Regions from separate parts of the Homo sapiens genome. Here all the other regions are linked to region 1. Evidence: fine-mapped expression QTL. A gene starts in region 1. Each other region holds a variant in brackets. All regions are shown on one strand. Distances are between the middles of the regions.

Region 1 (4,171 bases):
GGAGTAAGGTCAAAGTCGTATTAATTTGAGGAAGATCCTGTCTTTGCATAGACTAGCTGGAGGTCATTTCTCTAGTAAATCAGACTGGCAGTCCTTGAAGAAAAACTAATGTTTGTGGTGGTGGGTTATGCTTGTCTTCAAGGTACTTTAGGAGAGAAGCTGGCCTTGGCATTGCTGGTGGAGTGGGACTGAGCTAGCATGGAAGCCACCAATTCCTGCCCCATGTTTGTGAAACTGAAGCACCACATCCTTCCCCCACTTAGCAGAAGCAGGAGTTGATGACAATCACATTCTCATCCAGCTGAAATCTGATGGGCTAGAGTTCGTAAGATTCAGGAAGTAACGAACCAGGAACTCTCTTATTCCATGGACTGTGGTCTGGGTCAGTAGGCTGGGAGAGCTTGGAGGAAACAGGGAGGGAACAGCATAACCGTGTAAGGGAACAGTTACTGTAGGAGGAAGCAACGGCCACCCTTGAAAGGCCTTGAGGCTTGGTCTTTTTCTCCTATGTGGAGAAAGGGAGCCAGCTGACCTAATCAAGGCAAGTTGTCAACTGTTTGGGGCAGTTACTTGAAACTTTAGCCAAAATAACTCCTTAATTGTCCTTTAAAATTTACTTTGTATTTAGTGTGGTGGAGATGGGGGAGGCAGAACATGGACTGCGGGGAGGGCATGTGAATGTGCAGAGAGGAGCACCCAACAGCCGACCAGTGCCCAGCCACAGACGCCACAAGGCACAGTCTCCATTCTCCTTGGAAGAAAGGCCTCCCCTACCCCTAGGAAGAACGGAGCCTGACACAGAGCTTGTGTTCGCCCATATCACACACACTTAGAATTCTGTTCTTGGGAACTCAGGCAGATCTCTGGGGAGCCGATGGGGGACTGTGAAATTAGGTTCACTTCTGGATTTCATTATAATAAAGCAGGCCCCTATCCCCAATTTTAGGCATCAACATAGAACAGCTAACTTTAAATTTTTCCAAGTGATAATATAAAACAAACGACTTTCAATTAAGTTAAATGTCAATATTTGTGAACCGAAAAGTACCTGTATCAGTTTAGAAATTTATGTTGCGAAGGTGAAGGACTCGCGCCCAGAAGACAGGTCTGTGCCTTTCTCCAAAGATGATTTTGAGGGCTTCAATATTTAAAGGGGAAAAGCAGGCTGGAGGGGGAAGATGGAAGGTATGTTCACATTATTGAAGCCACATGTTGCGATAAAGGGAGCAGGTAGGGCAACAGTTATGTATTTGGCGCTCAGTAAATCGGCACTTTACACAAGATAAGGTGAACATAGAGTGGAGATACTTCACCTTTAATCTGTAGCTATCTGCTTAGGAACAAAAGGAAAGGCAGTTGCATGACTCAGCTTTCAGTTTAATTTTTTTTCCTTTTGGCAGAGTGAATTTTCGTTTCACAATACCAAAAAAAAAAAAAAAAAAAAAGCGGGGGGAGGCTCAGAATAAGGAACAATCCTTTGGCTTGAGTATTTCATTTCATGAAAAACTAAATTGTTATTTCTTTTTTCCACAAGAACGATTAACAGAGCTGCAGACCAGTGTTTGGGGTCATCTGAGTGGAAATTGTCGAGCCGACTTTGGCTCATACGTTCCTTTTCTCGTTAAGGAGGGAGTGACGGGGCAAATCTGCGTGCTGCTGGTGGCGGTGCCTCCCAGGGCTGCTCGGCGGGGACGCCGAGGGCTGCACCCGAGCTCCATCCCGTGTTGGCTGCGCGCCCTCCAAAACCCCGGCTGTCAGCGACTGCGGGCACCTGCACGCCGACGAGACCGGCGGGCGGACAGCGACTCCGGTGAGGGTACTATCTCTCTACCCTCGGGGCGCGGGTGGCAGAGGCTTCCTGTTTTGAGGATGGCGCCACACAAAACAAGCATCCTTAGCCTGAAGGGCCCCGGCCGAAGGGCCGGAAGTGGAAGTGCGCGGCCTTGCCCGCCGCGTTTCCCCTCCTCGGAGTGCTTTTTGTGGACCCTGGGCAAGGGGCTCTTGCTACATAGAGAGGAGCAAAGAACAGGCATCGCCCGGTCCTTAAAGCGGCGGCACCCTCCACGCCCCGCAGTCGCGTCTGCTTGGTCCACAGCCTCCCCTCCCAGGCCCGCGCAGAGGCCCAGCAAGCACCAGTCTGGAGGCAACAAGCACGCAGGGGTGCCTTTGCGGCCACGCACACTGCATCGCAGTGAAAAAGGCTCCCGTTCTCAAGGCGCATGCGCGCAGGCCAGCAACTCCAAAGCCAGGCCTCCAGCCCCGGTTTGCTAGAGAGAAAGGTAGCCGGGAGGTGGGGAAAAGGAGAACAGGAGGGCCCTGTCCGCTAAGGTAGCCTCCCATTGGCTCCTCTTGCTCCGCTCTCGGTCGCGATTGGCTACGGGCCGGGAGCACGGGCCGAGCACGCTCCCACGCGCAGAGCGGCATTCGGCAGGCGGACGGCGGTGCAGCCAATGGGAGCGGCCCGCGGGGCGGGGCTTGTGAGCTGGGGCTCCCCCGGAGCGGGCGAGTTGGTAAACAGATCCGGAGCGCGTGGCGGGCGTCAGCGCGGTGGCCAGCGCGCAGAGGCGGGCGCGGAGGCGGCTAGAAGGTGACCGCGGATCCCAGCTTCCTGCAGCCAGGTAAGGCTGCCACCCGCCGGCCCGCCGCGTGCCCAGGCGCCGTCTGGCTGCGGCCAGAGCTGGGGTCAACACCCACCTCAGCCCTTCTTGCATTCTCTTCATGTGACAGCGCAGCTTCCCCGCGAGTTTCGCTGGCCGCGAGCCTCAGGTCCGGACGCAGTGGGGGCGCCTCAGTTGCAGGGTGGGTCCTCTGCAGCCGTCTCACGTCCCTGGGTCCACCTCAGCCCCTCGTTCCTGCTTCGGGGAGGAGACGAGGGCCACGTGCAGAGCCTTGGGTCCCTGGAACACGCCCGCTGCTTGCCCGACCGCCTTCCCGCTGCCGAATGCCCGTTGCCCATGCCCTTTGGTCGCCAATACAGCTTTGATGCTTCGCTTTCTAATAATGTTGTTCTTCACTCCCAGACCCCCTTGCACTGTGTGTCTGGGGCTCTAGGCTCGTTGCCGCTGGCTGCAGGTTTGGGTGAGAACTTTGACTTCCTTGGCTGGAGCCAGCTGTTGGGCTTCGCAGGTGGGAATTTTGTGTGAACTTGGGACAGGGGATCCTTTTTGATCCTTTCTTCCTTTCGCTTTTCTTTGGCCTTTCCTCTTCTCCAAACTCTGGGGGGTCTTGTGAGTGGTTTGGGCTTACTCCCCTAAACTCGAACCTTTCCGAGGCTCATTCTCACCCATTGCACAGAGGTAACAGCCCCTCTGCCAAACCCTCTTTGGGCGATGGGGAGTGCTGCAGGGGCAGGTTTGGGTGTTGGGACTCCCCATTTGGGTGAGAGATGTCAGGTTCCTGAAGGGTGAGAGGCTTGTGTGCAGTCTTCCAGCCTGAGTCGGGCCTACAGCCTGTTGAAAAACTTGTGCACGTTCACTTGGGCCTTGGATCTACGTGACAGGATTGAGTAGCTGGTCATGCCAGGCCTACCTGATTGCCAAAGGATTTGAACATTCCTTGATGCCAGCCTGCCAGTTGTCACGCTGTGGATGGGTAGGTCATCCTGGCAGGAGGGCTCTTGGGAGACTCTTCTTTTGGAGGAAGGCCTTTCTCCCGAGGAGAGACAAAAGGGGAGCTACAGGAGCAGCATCTGTAAGACTCAGGCGGCTGGGTGCGGTGGCTCACGCCTGTAATCCCAGCACTTTGGGAGTCCGAGGCGGGTGGATCACCGTAGGTCAGGAGTTCGAGACCAGCCTGGCCAAAATGGTGAAACCCCGTCTCTACCGAAAAAAAAAAAATACGAAAATTAGCCGGATGTGGTGGCGGGCGCCTATAATCCCAGCTACTCAGGAGGCTGAGGTGGGAGAATTGCTTGAACCTGGGAGGCAGAGGTTGCAGTGAGCCAAGATGGCGCCAGTGCACTCCCCTCTGGGCAACAGAGCGAGACTCAATCTCAAAAAAAAAAAAAAAAGGCTCAGGCAATGGCTTAGAGTGTTTTGTTCAGCCTTGCAAATGGTGCGGACTATGCAGAATCGTAATGATTTGGGGCCTAATGTTGAGCAACTCAAAGGAAAAGTGAACCAGGCAGAATGGGCACCTCCCTCAGAGCCAGTGTGTTATCTAAGACAAAGTT
Region 2 (4,171 bases), 47 kb after region 1:
GGCTCCCTGGGATGTCGGGAGCTGAGCTTTTCATGCTGCCCACGGTCCCCTCCTGTGCCTCTCCCCAGATCATCAGGGCTGCTGCCGACAGGGACAGGGAGACTGTGCGGGCGAAATCCATAGAGATGAAGTTCCTCACCGGCTACGAGGTCAAGGTGAGCAGGGTTGCGGGGGATCCCCTGGGCCTGCTGACCCAGGGCCCGGCTCCCTGTGTAAGAATGGATGAAAGCACAGGGGGCAGCTGCCCTCAAGGGGCCCCCAGAGCCCGGGCCTCCTTGGGCACGGTCTGAAAGCTGGGGCCCACCCCGGCCCATGCTGCCCTGCTGAGCGTGAGATTTTCCGAGTGGGCCAGTGAGTTGGGGACTTGTCGTGAAGCTCTTGTTTCTGCCTCTCACTCTTGCCCACTTAGGGCTTGGGGTTGGGCCTCGATTGAGCCAACGTGCAGAGCAAGTGGGAAGGGAAGCCCCAGCCCTCCCCTCATCGAGCCTCCCTGGGGGGAGTTGGAAGAAACCTTAGAAGCCTTTTAAATAAAGGGGAACGGTCTGTGCTGGTGCCGCCTGAAGCCACCCACAAAGTGGCATTTTCCGCTTGCTGCTTGACAGTGGGGAAGGAGTTAAAGAAATCCAGGTCAAGCCTTGGGTCTGCCGTCTCATAGGAGTGTCATTTGAGGCTTGTCAGTATCTCTGAGCCCCCCTTATCTCAGCTGTAAGCGCTCAGCGGGCAGCAGCTCTCTCCCGCCTCTTCCTTATGGCCACTCGCACTGACTCGATTCCTGGCCGCCCCGTCCCTCTGACCACCTTGGGCTGTCCCTGGCGGCAGCTCCTCTCCCCTGCTCTGCTGGCGGCGGCTTCCTTAGGTTGCTAGTTCCCGTGGGCAGACACACGGCTGCTGGGTGTGTCTTGGGTGGACTCTGGCAGGCTCAGACACGCATGGTGGGAGGCCCTGCCAGCTTAGGCCCACGGACTCTGTTCTTTTTGGCCAGAACAGTGTTTTGTTAAAACTCTGTATGAGTGCCACGAGGCGGGACGCATCCTCTGCACTCTGCCACAGGCCCCGCCACTCCCTTTTGTATCACATCAGCCCAGTCCATGTTACCCTCGTGTTCCCGGCCCCTGTGGGTTTGAGTTTATGCCCATTACCATGATGTAATCCAGTTTACAGCAGAGCTTTGAATGAGAACTCAGCGCCCCGGGCACTGTGGGAGGAACCCGGGCTGGTGGAGGGCTCTGGTGTCTCGCCGCCATTTATCCTTCCTCTCTTGCCCCAGGTCATGGAAGACGCCCACTTGGATGCCATCCTCATCCTGGGGGAGGCCTTCGCCTCTGATGAGCCTTTTGATTTTGGCACTCAGAGCACCACCGAGAAGATCCACAACCTGATTCCCGTCATGCTGAGGCACCGTCTCGTCCCCCCACCCGAGGAAACCTACTCCCTGCACAGGAAGATGGGGGGCTCCTTCCTCATCTGCTCCAAGCTGAAGGCCCGCTTCCCCTGCAAGGCCATGTTCGAGGAGGCCTACAGCAACTACTGCAAGAGGCAGGCCCAGCAGTAGGGCTGCGGGCCACGCCCAGGCCGGCTCCGCGGGAACTCTCTCCCTCAGACAGGCCAAAAACCAGTAGCGAGGTCGTGGTGATGCTCTTTTTAACTCCTTTGCCCAATAAGGGGGGTGGCTGCCTGGAGCCCCGTAGCCAGCGCTTTCCACGGTTTCTGTTGCTAAATGGTTGTAGGGTGAGAAGTGCAAGAATGAAGATGAAGCCCCACTGCTCGGTCAGTCTGCCTCCGTGTGTCCTCTGAAATAAGCAGATGAAGATGAAAGGGCAACTTTGTTTTCTTCTTTTTCCTGATGTGAATGTTAAGCAGAAGGGAGAGAGTCCTTACTCCCTTCCAATCTCTGTTCAGTGCAAAACCCAGAAACATGAACAGATACGATTGTGGGATTTTATCATCTGTGTAGTAGGTGTGTGTATGTGTTTCTAGAGTGAGATTTGTGTTTTCTGCCCTTTTCCTCTCCAGCCGATGGGCTGGAGCTGGGAGAGGTGCTGAGCTAACAGTGCCAACAAGTGCTCCTTAAGCCTGCGAGGCCCAGGCCTGTGGGGCTGGTTCTCACCTTTGACAGCTGAATGTTCCTAAAGAACTGCTGCCCCACAGTGAGGGTGGGAGCAGCGGAACAGGGAATGCCAGACACAGGCTCGCTGCTGCTGGAAGGCGGGGTGGGACTTCCTTCCTCTGTCCGGAGAGGCACAGGTGTCACCAGTTCCAGCCAAAGGCTCCTCACAGGCGCTGTGAATTTTTGTACAAGTCTTGTAATTATCGAATCAACAACTTGTTTCAATTTAATAAAAATGCTCATGGGAAGTG[C/CT]TTTGGCGCGTGTACCCTCTTCTGTATTCTGGAGAATGACGACCCGTATCTTCTAGCTCGTGGTGGTGGTTCTTTTCTGACCTGACGGTCAGCAGGTTCAGTGTCACAGCCCATTTGCAAGGGTTGGGACTGGTTCAGCGTGAGGCCCTTGGCCCTGAACCTGGAAGGCTCAGCCCCGTTCCCTGTAAGAAGGGAGGTGGGAGGGGTGGAGAACAGGAGGAGAGGTTGCGGTGTCACTGCCCCAGCCCCCGGGAGGCTGTACCACACTGCTGAAGCTGCTGTACCTGGTGATGGTGGCAACTGGGAGGACAGTGACACCTGCCAGCACGGCTGATGCCAGGTCTGCATCACAGTGAGACGTCTCCTCTCTAGACATCAGCTGCAGTTGAGGACCACGTCCTGAAAAGTGGCTTTTCCTGGGGCCAGACTGATTCCTAGATAACAGGACACACTGGACACTGAGCTGGGGCCCTTTCTACGGACCTGTGAGCAGTTGAAAGTGCATCTGCAGAATGCACAGGCCCAAAAGAGGCTTTGAGAGGTATAGGCTTTCAGGGTTCTTAAAGAAAGAAAATATAGTTTCTGAAATTTGGGATTGCCGAGTAGCAGACCCAGTGGGCTCCGGGACAGGATGGAGAGGCCTGGGTGGCGTCCGTGAGGCTGCCTGGCTAGCAGCGGCGCCCAGCACCACTGTCAGATCCCTGGCTGAAACTCTTGTGGCCCTCTTCTTAAGGGTATTTGCTGTTGTCTAGCAAACTCCTCTGCAGCACTCAGATCTGAAGCCATCGCCCTGCAGAGTAAACAGCAGGGGAAGAACCCAGGCCAGCCCCAGCCAGGGCTCTCACAGTCTCCTCTTCCTCTTGAACAACAAGCCAAACAAGTCAAGCAGCAGCATGCGGGGGGAAGGGAGAGGAGAACAACAGCAGCCAGCATTTGCTTCCCCAGGAACCACGACCATAACTGCTGGAACAGGAGAAGTTTTCTAAGGGAAAACTGGAATGTGGTTTGTGTGTCCTAAGTCTGAGAGCCGGCTGAGAACTAGAGCCCTCCCTGTGAAGACAGTGGGGATCACTGGATTGCAAATGACTTTAATCCCCAAGTAAAGCTGGCTCTGAAGCTGGCCACACATACTTATTCTTTTGTACCTATTTTGATTTTTACAGTATTGTGATGAATGACTCCCCGTGCTCACCCATTCACACTGAGACATGGGGCATGAGAACATGGCAAATCATGGCTTGATTTTCCCAGGGTCTGTGTCTTCGTGTCCCTAACATCTAGTGAAGGGCTGGACACCACACAACAAAAAAATATTTGTTACTGTAGGCTTTGGCGGTTACTCATAAGGACAAAACACTAAACCATAGGCTAGAAGTTAGATTCTGAGTGCATTAACTCCTGACACTCCAAGTGGGCCTTTTTACAGAGGGAAAAAAAAAAAAAGAGGCCCAGAGGTTAAGTGGCAGAATGAGGATTTGGAACAAGACAGTCTAGTCTTACAGTCTACACTAAGGGGACCAAACGAAGGGCTGGCAAACTATGATGGTCCAAGGGCCAAATCTGGCCCACTGCATTTTTGTAAGTTTTATTGGGGCACAGCCACTCTCGTTTATGTACGTAGCAGGCTAAGACTGTTTTTGCACTGAAATGCCAGAGCCGGGGAGCTGCAGCAAACTATATACACAAAGGCACAAGGATTTCTTAACTGGTCCTGGACAGAAAAGGGTTGCCAAGCCCTGTTCTAAAGCACTGCACAGCTGACACTACAGTAAACCAACATAACAGTATCAGCCACAAATGTCAATTCCATGGG
Region 3 (4,171 bases), 36 kb after region 1:
AGTTGTTTGATGTTTTGCTTTTTTTAACCTCCTGGTGTCCATCTGGGCAGAAGCCGAGTGACTGCCCACAGGAGGGCCCTGTTTGGCTCTGATGACCTCCTAGAGGGACTTTTGGGAGGATGGGGCCTTGTGGGGGACTGGGCTCCAGAAGTCATAGGAGGTTGGCCTGCAGCCTGTGTTCCTGCCTGGGGGAGAGCCTGCCCCTCCCTCCCCTGTCATTCCTTCATTGCATAACTTCTCTCGGAGAAACATGTCAGAAGCTTTCCTGGAACAGGCCAGGAGGGAAGCAAGGCTGCTCACAGTGGCTTTAGAGCCTGGAGCTTGTGCTGGGGCTGGTTTTCCTCCAGGACGACCTTGCTGGCCACGTGGGCCAAGCCGGGGGCGCTCTTAGAATGTGGATCTGAGCAGGGAGAGGTGTGAGGTGTCCTGAGGGCTGTGGGGGTGCCGAGTGGGGTCCCACGAGGACCCGGGGAGTGCCGGCTGAGGTGCTCATCTTCTGGAGTTGCCTCCAGTGCTGGCTGGTTCTAATGGAGGGCAGAGGCTGGCCTGGGTTCCTGAGCAATGCGCTGAGTCTGGGGCGGGAGGGCCTCAGTTTATTCTGGGTTCACTGGTGCAGGAGCTCGTGAGGCCAAGGTCAGGGTTGCTGGCCAGCTGGGCTGGTTTCTGTCCCCTGGGGAGCCTGCCTGTCTGTCAGTGGGCAGCGCCTTGGCCTGGCACTGGGCTGGTCGGTCCTGAGGGACGTGTGGGGCCTGAGGCCTCCTCTGTGGAATGTTCTTTTGGTCATTTGTTTAATAACAGGTCCTTGCCAGTGGAGAGCTGTGTGCCTGAAAGTGGCCAGAGAACAGTTTGAGGGGGGTCCTGATGGAGGGTGATGAGGGGGACACACCTCTGCCTGCAGAAGGAGGAGCTCAATGTGGCCCACCCTACAGCTGTGGCATCTCCGGTAACCTGTGGATCCACCTGCCCCTCTCGTGGGCTTGTCTCTGGACTTGCTTCAGGCAGAGAAGAATCCAGACACAGAGAGACATTGGTGAAGGTCACTGCAGTGCACAGGCTAATGTTGCCTGTCTCCGTTTATTTCGCTAAGTCAGATCGTGTGCTCGAGTGCTGGCAGGGCAGAGGTGGGCAGGCATCAGGGAGTTAATGTTTAAACGGGGACTGTGTCTCCCAGCTCTGAGCCCAGGGCTTTCTACAGCGAGAGAAAGAGCTGATGTACCTGCCAGGCACCCCCATCCCAACACAGCAGACATCTGTACCATGTGTGTTGTCACTCCTGAGGGCCAGGAGGCTCAGCTTATCCTGCCCCATGCTGCCCAGTACGGAGCCGCCAGCCGCACGGGGCCTTGGAAATGCGGCTGGTCCACAGTGGGATGTGCTGAGTATAAAACACACATGGTGTTTGGAGACTTTGTGCACACACACAAGTGCAAAATATCTCTAATAATATTTATTTTGATTACTTGTTGAAATGATAACATTTTGGGTATATTAAGTAAATTATACTATTAGAATTCATTTTGCATGTTTCTTCTTGCCTTTTTCAGTGTGGCTGCTAGAAAAGTAACAATTATATGTGTGGCTTGCCTTCTATTTCTTTTGTTCTGCGCCGGCCCAGCCTTTTTGAATAGAGTCACGAGAACAACAGCAGCTGCTTGTGTGGCCTTTGTGTGTTCCTGGCCCGGCGAGTGCTCTACTCACGCCCGCACGACAGCCTGTGAGGCAGGGGCTGCCCAGACTGCTGGGGACGTGGAGGGTGCACTGTTGCCCAGGTGTGGGTAAAAATGTATCGCAAAAACATTTTTTTAAAAATTGAGTTGTCTTCTTTTTAGTTTTAAAATGTACTTTTCATTAAATTTTCAACAAGTTCTGTATTTTTCATAAAAGTCATGCATAATCACTGTAGAGAATTTGGAAACATGCAAGCAGATGCCAGTTTCCTTGCGCCTTAAACAGAGCGTCCTGGTGTGAGCCCTCTCCCCCAACAGCCCCCTGCTGCGATGTTGCCTGGCTGC[C/A]GGGCAGTGGGGCTGTGGCGCTGCGATGTTGTCTGACTGCGGGGCTGTGGGACTGCGATGTTGCCTGGCTGTGGGGCTGCGGGACTGCGGGGCTGTGGGACTGCGATGTTGCCTGGCTGCGGGGCTGCGGGACTGCGGGGCTGTGGGACTGCGATGTTGCCTGGCTGCGGGGCTGTGGGACTGCGGGGCTGTGGGACTGCGATGTTGCCTGGCTGCGGGGCTGCAGGGCTGCGGGACTGCGGGGCTGTGGGACTGCGATGTTGCCGGGCTGCGGGGCTGCGGGACTGCGGGGCTGTGGGACTGCGATGTTGCCTGGCTGCGGGGCTGTGGGACTGCGGGGCTGTGGGACTGCGATGTTGCCTGGCTTCGGGGCTGCGGGGCTGCGGGGCTGCGATGTTGCCCGGGTGCGGGGTGCGGGGCTCTCCGAGGCCGGCTCATCGTGCGGCCGCTCTGGTCTCAGCCCTGCCGGCCATGGTCACCGTGCCCAGCCAGGTGCTCTTCACCCTCTTTCTGCTCACCCATGCCTACCCGGAAAGCCAGCTACAGCTGGGTATAAAGGAAGAGAATACTGGCCCTGGGTGAGGTGTGGCATTAGTGGCACCTTCTGGGCTCCTGGGCAGGGGTGGGGAGTGGCTTTCTTGAGCAGCTGGGATCATTCATTGACTGATTTTTGGATAAATGAGGTGTTAGTGGACCTTGATTCGGAAGATTGTGAAAGAGGATAATGGGAAGGCCTGGCACCCCACGGTCCTCAGATGTCAGTGTTTGCCAGCCCCGCAGAAAGGGCAAGGTGGGCGAGAGGGCCTTCCATTACCCAGCGAGGGCTGCGCCTGAGCCCCGCGAGTTCCCCTGGCTTGGATTAGGGGGAGCCAAAAGTGTTCTCACTCTCACCACCAAGTGCTTTGTATGCCTGTGGCAACACCTTTCCTGTTCCAGTGAATTAGGGAAGTCTAGGTGATGGGAGGCTCTTCAGACAGACCTGAAGCGGGTGGTTGTGTTCTCAGGGTGCCCTGTGTGGTCGGGGTGACGTTGGTCTGTGGACCATCCCTGGTCCGTCTTCCCATTTGTGCTGGGTCCTTCCCAGGTGCTTCCCAGCTGGCATTACTTTGGGGTGTCCGTGTGCCCGTGAGCCTGTGAATTATCAAAGGTGATGGTGTGGAGTGGGGGATTCCTGAATCTTTTTCACTGAAACACCTACCTCGAGCCAAATGTTCTCTTAAAACAACAGGTGGCATCTCCCACCTTGTTCCCCACTTTTCAAAATGCTGGTGTGGCAGCGAGGGCCCCTGGTGCAAGCGGTGTCTGTGTGGTGCTGCCCCAGGCCTTGTGGGTGGGCGAGCGGGTGGCCCCAGCCCTGCGTGAGCACTGAGTGCCCGCCCCCTCCTCCTTGCAGGTCTGGCCGTGGGCCTGGGCTTCGGGGCACTGGCAGAGGTCGCCAAGAAGAGCCTGCGCTCCGAGGACCCCTCAGGTGAGCCGGGCCCTTCAGTGGGAGGGGCAGGGTGGGCCCCGGGAGGGTTGAGCCTGTCAGCCCCCAGCCCCACCTGTGCTCTGGGAGTGTCAGCCAGCTGGGCCGCATTTGCATGGGGTTCCACGTAAGTGGCGTCCCTGGGGTGATGAGGCTGTTCATACAGACAGATTGACCTGCTTTAGAGGGGGTGAGGCTGGAGGCCCTTCCTCCTCCCAGCCCAAAGTGGCCACCCAGCCCCTTCTTTTTGGCTGCCTGCACATCCACACGCCTTCTGCACACCTGGACACCTTACACACCCCCTGCACACCCACTGAACACCCACACACAACCCCTGCACACCCACCGAACACCCGCAGACCTTACCCCTTCCACACCCAGCGAACACGCGCACACCTTACACACCCCTTGCCCACCCACCAAACACCCGCACCTTACATACCCCTTGCACACCCACTGAACACCCACACACCTCCTTATACCTCCTGCACACCCACCGAACACCCACAGACCTTACACACCCCTTGCACACCCACCGAACACCCGCACACCTTACCCCTGCACACCCACCGAACACCCGCACACGTCACACACCCCCTGCACACCCACCAAACACCCACACATCTTACCCTCCACACACCCACGCACCTTTTTACATCCTCCACACACCCACCTCATACCTGCACACCTCCTT

Alleles and levels. Alleles are on the strand shown, and positions count from the first base shown. SD is a standard deviation of normalised expression in the study named. Not every link is listed here.
With allele CT in place of C in region 2, the expression in neutrophils of the gene that starts at base 2,513 in region 1 is higher (large effect, 1.1 SD a copy in CEDAR).

The links. PIP is the estimated chance that this variant, and not a neighbour inherited with it, causes the effect.
Region 2: its variant is the best candidate, but not a certain one, in a credible set for the expression of COQ8A in neutrophils (CEDAR, PIP 0.66).
Region 3: its variant is the best candidate, but not a certain one, in a credible set for the expression of COQ8A in whole blood (TOPMed, PIP 0.51).

The regions. Positions count from the first base shown.
Region 1 is chr1:226,937,782-226,941,952 of GRCh38, forward strand. It overlaps COQ8A (coenzyme Q8A), which reads left to right and starts at 2,513. Exons shown (of 15, transcript NM_020247.5): 1 at 2,513-2,618. RefSeq lists enhancers at 1,183-1,874, 1,609-1,658, 1,849-1,948 and silencers at 2,219-2,528, 2,579-2,738.
Region 2 is chr1:226,985,186-226,989,356 of GRCh38, forward strand. COQ8A (coenzyme Q8A) reads left to right here. Exons shown (of 15, transcript NM_020247.5): 14 at 69-155; 15 at 1,268-2,359. The coding sequence ends at 1,552. Among named protein-coding and RNA genes, the nearest start is that of COQ8A, 47 kb to the left of the region's middle. The variant C/CT (reference allele first, on the strand shown) is at 2,359.
Region 3 is chr1:226,974,044-226,978,214 of GRCh38, forward strand. COQ8A (coenzyme Q8A) reads left to right here. Exons shown (of 15, transcript NM_020247.5): 5 at 3,406-3,480. Among named protein-coding and RNA genes, the nearest start is that of COQ8A, 36 kb to the left of the region's middle. RefSeq lists an enhancer at 1-398. The variant C/A (reference allele first, on the strand shown) is at 2,013.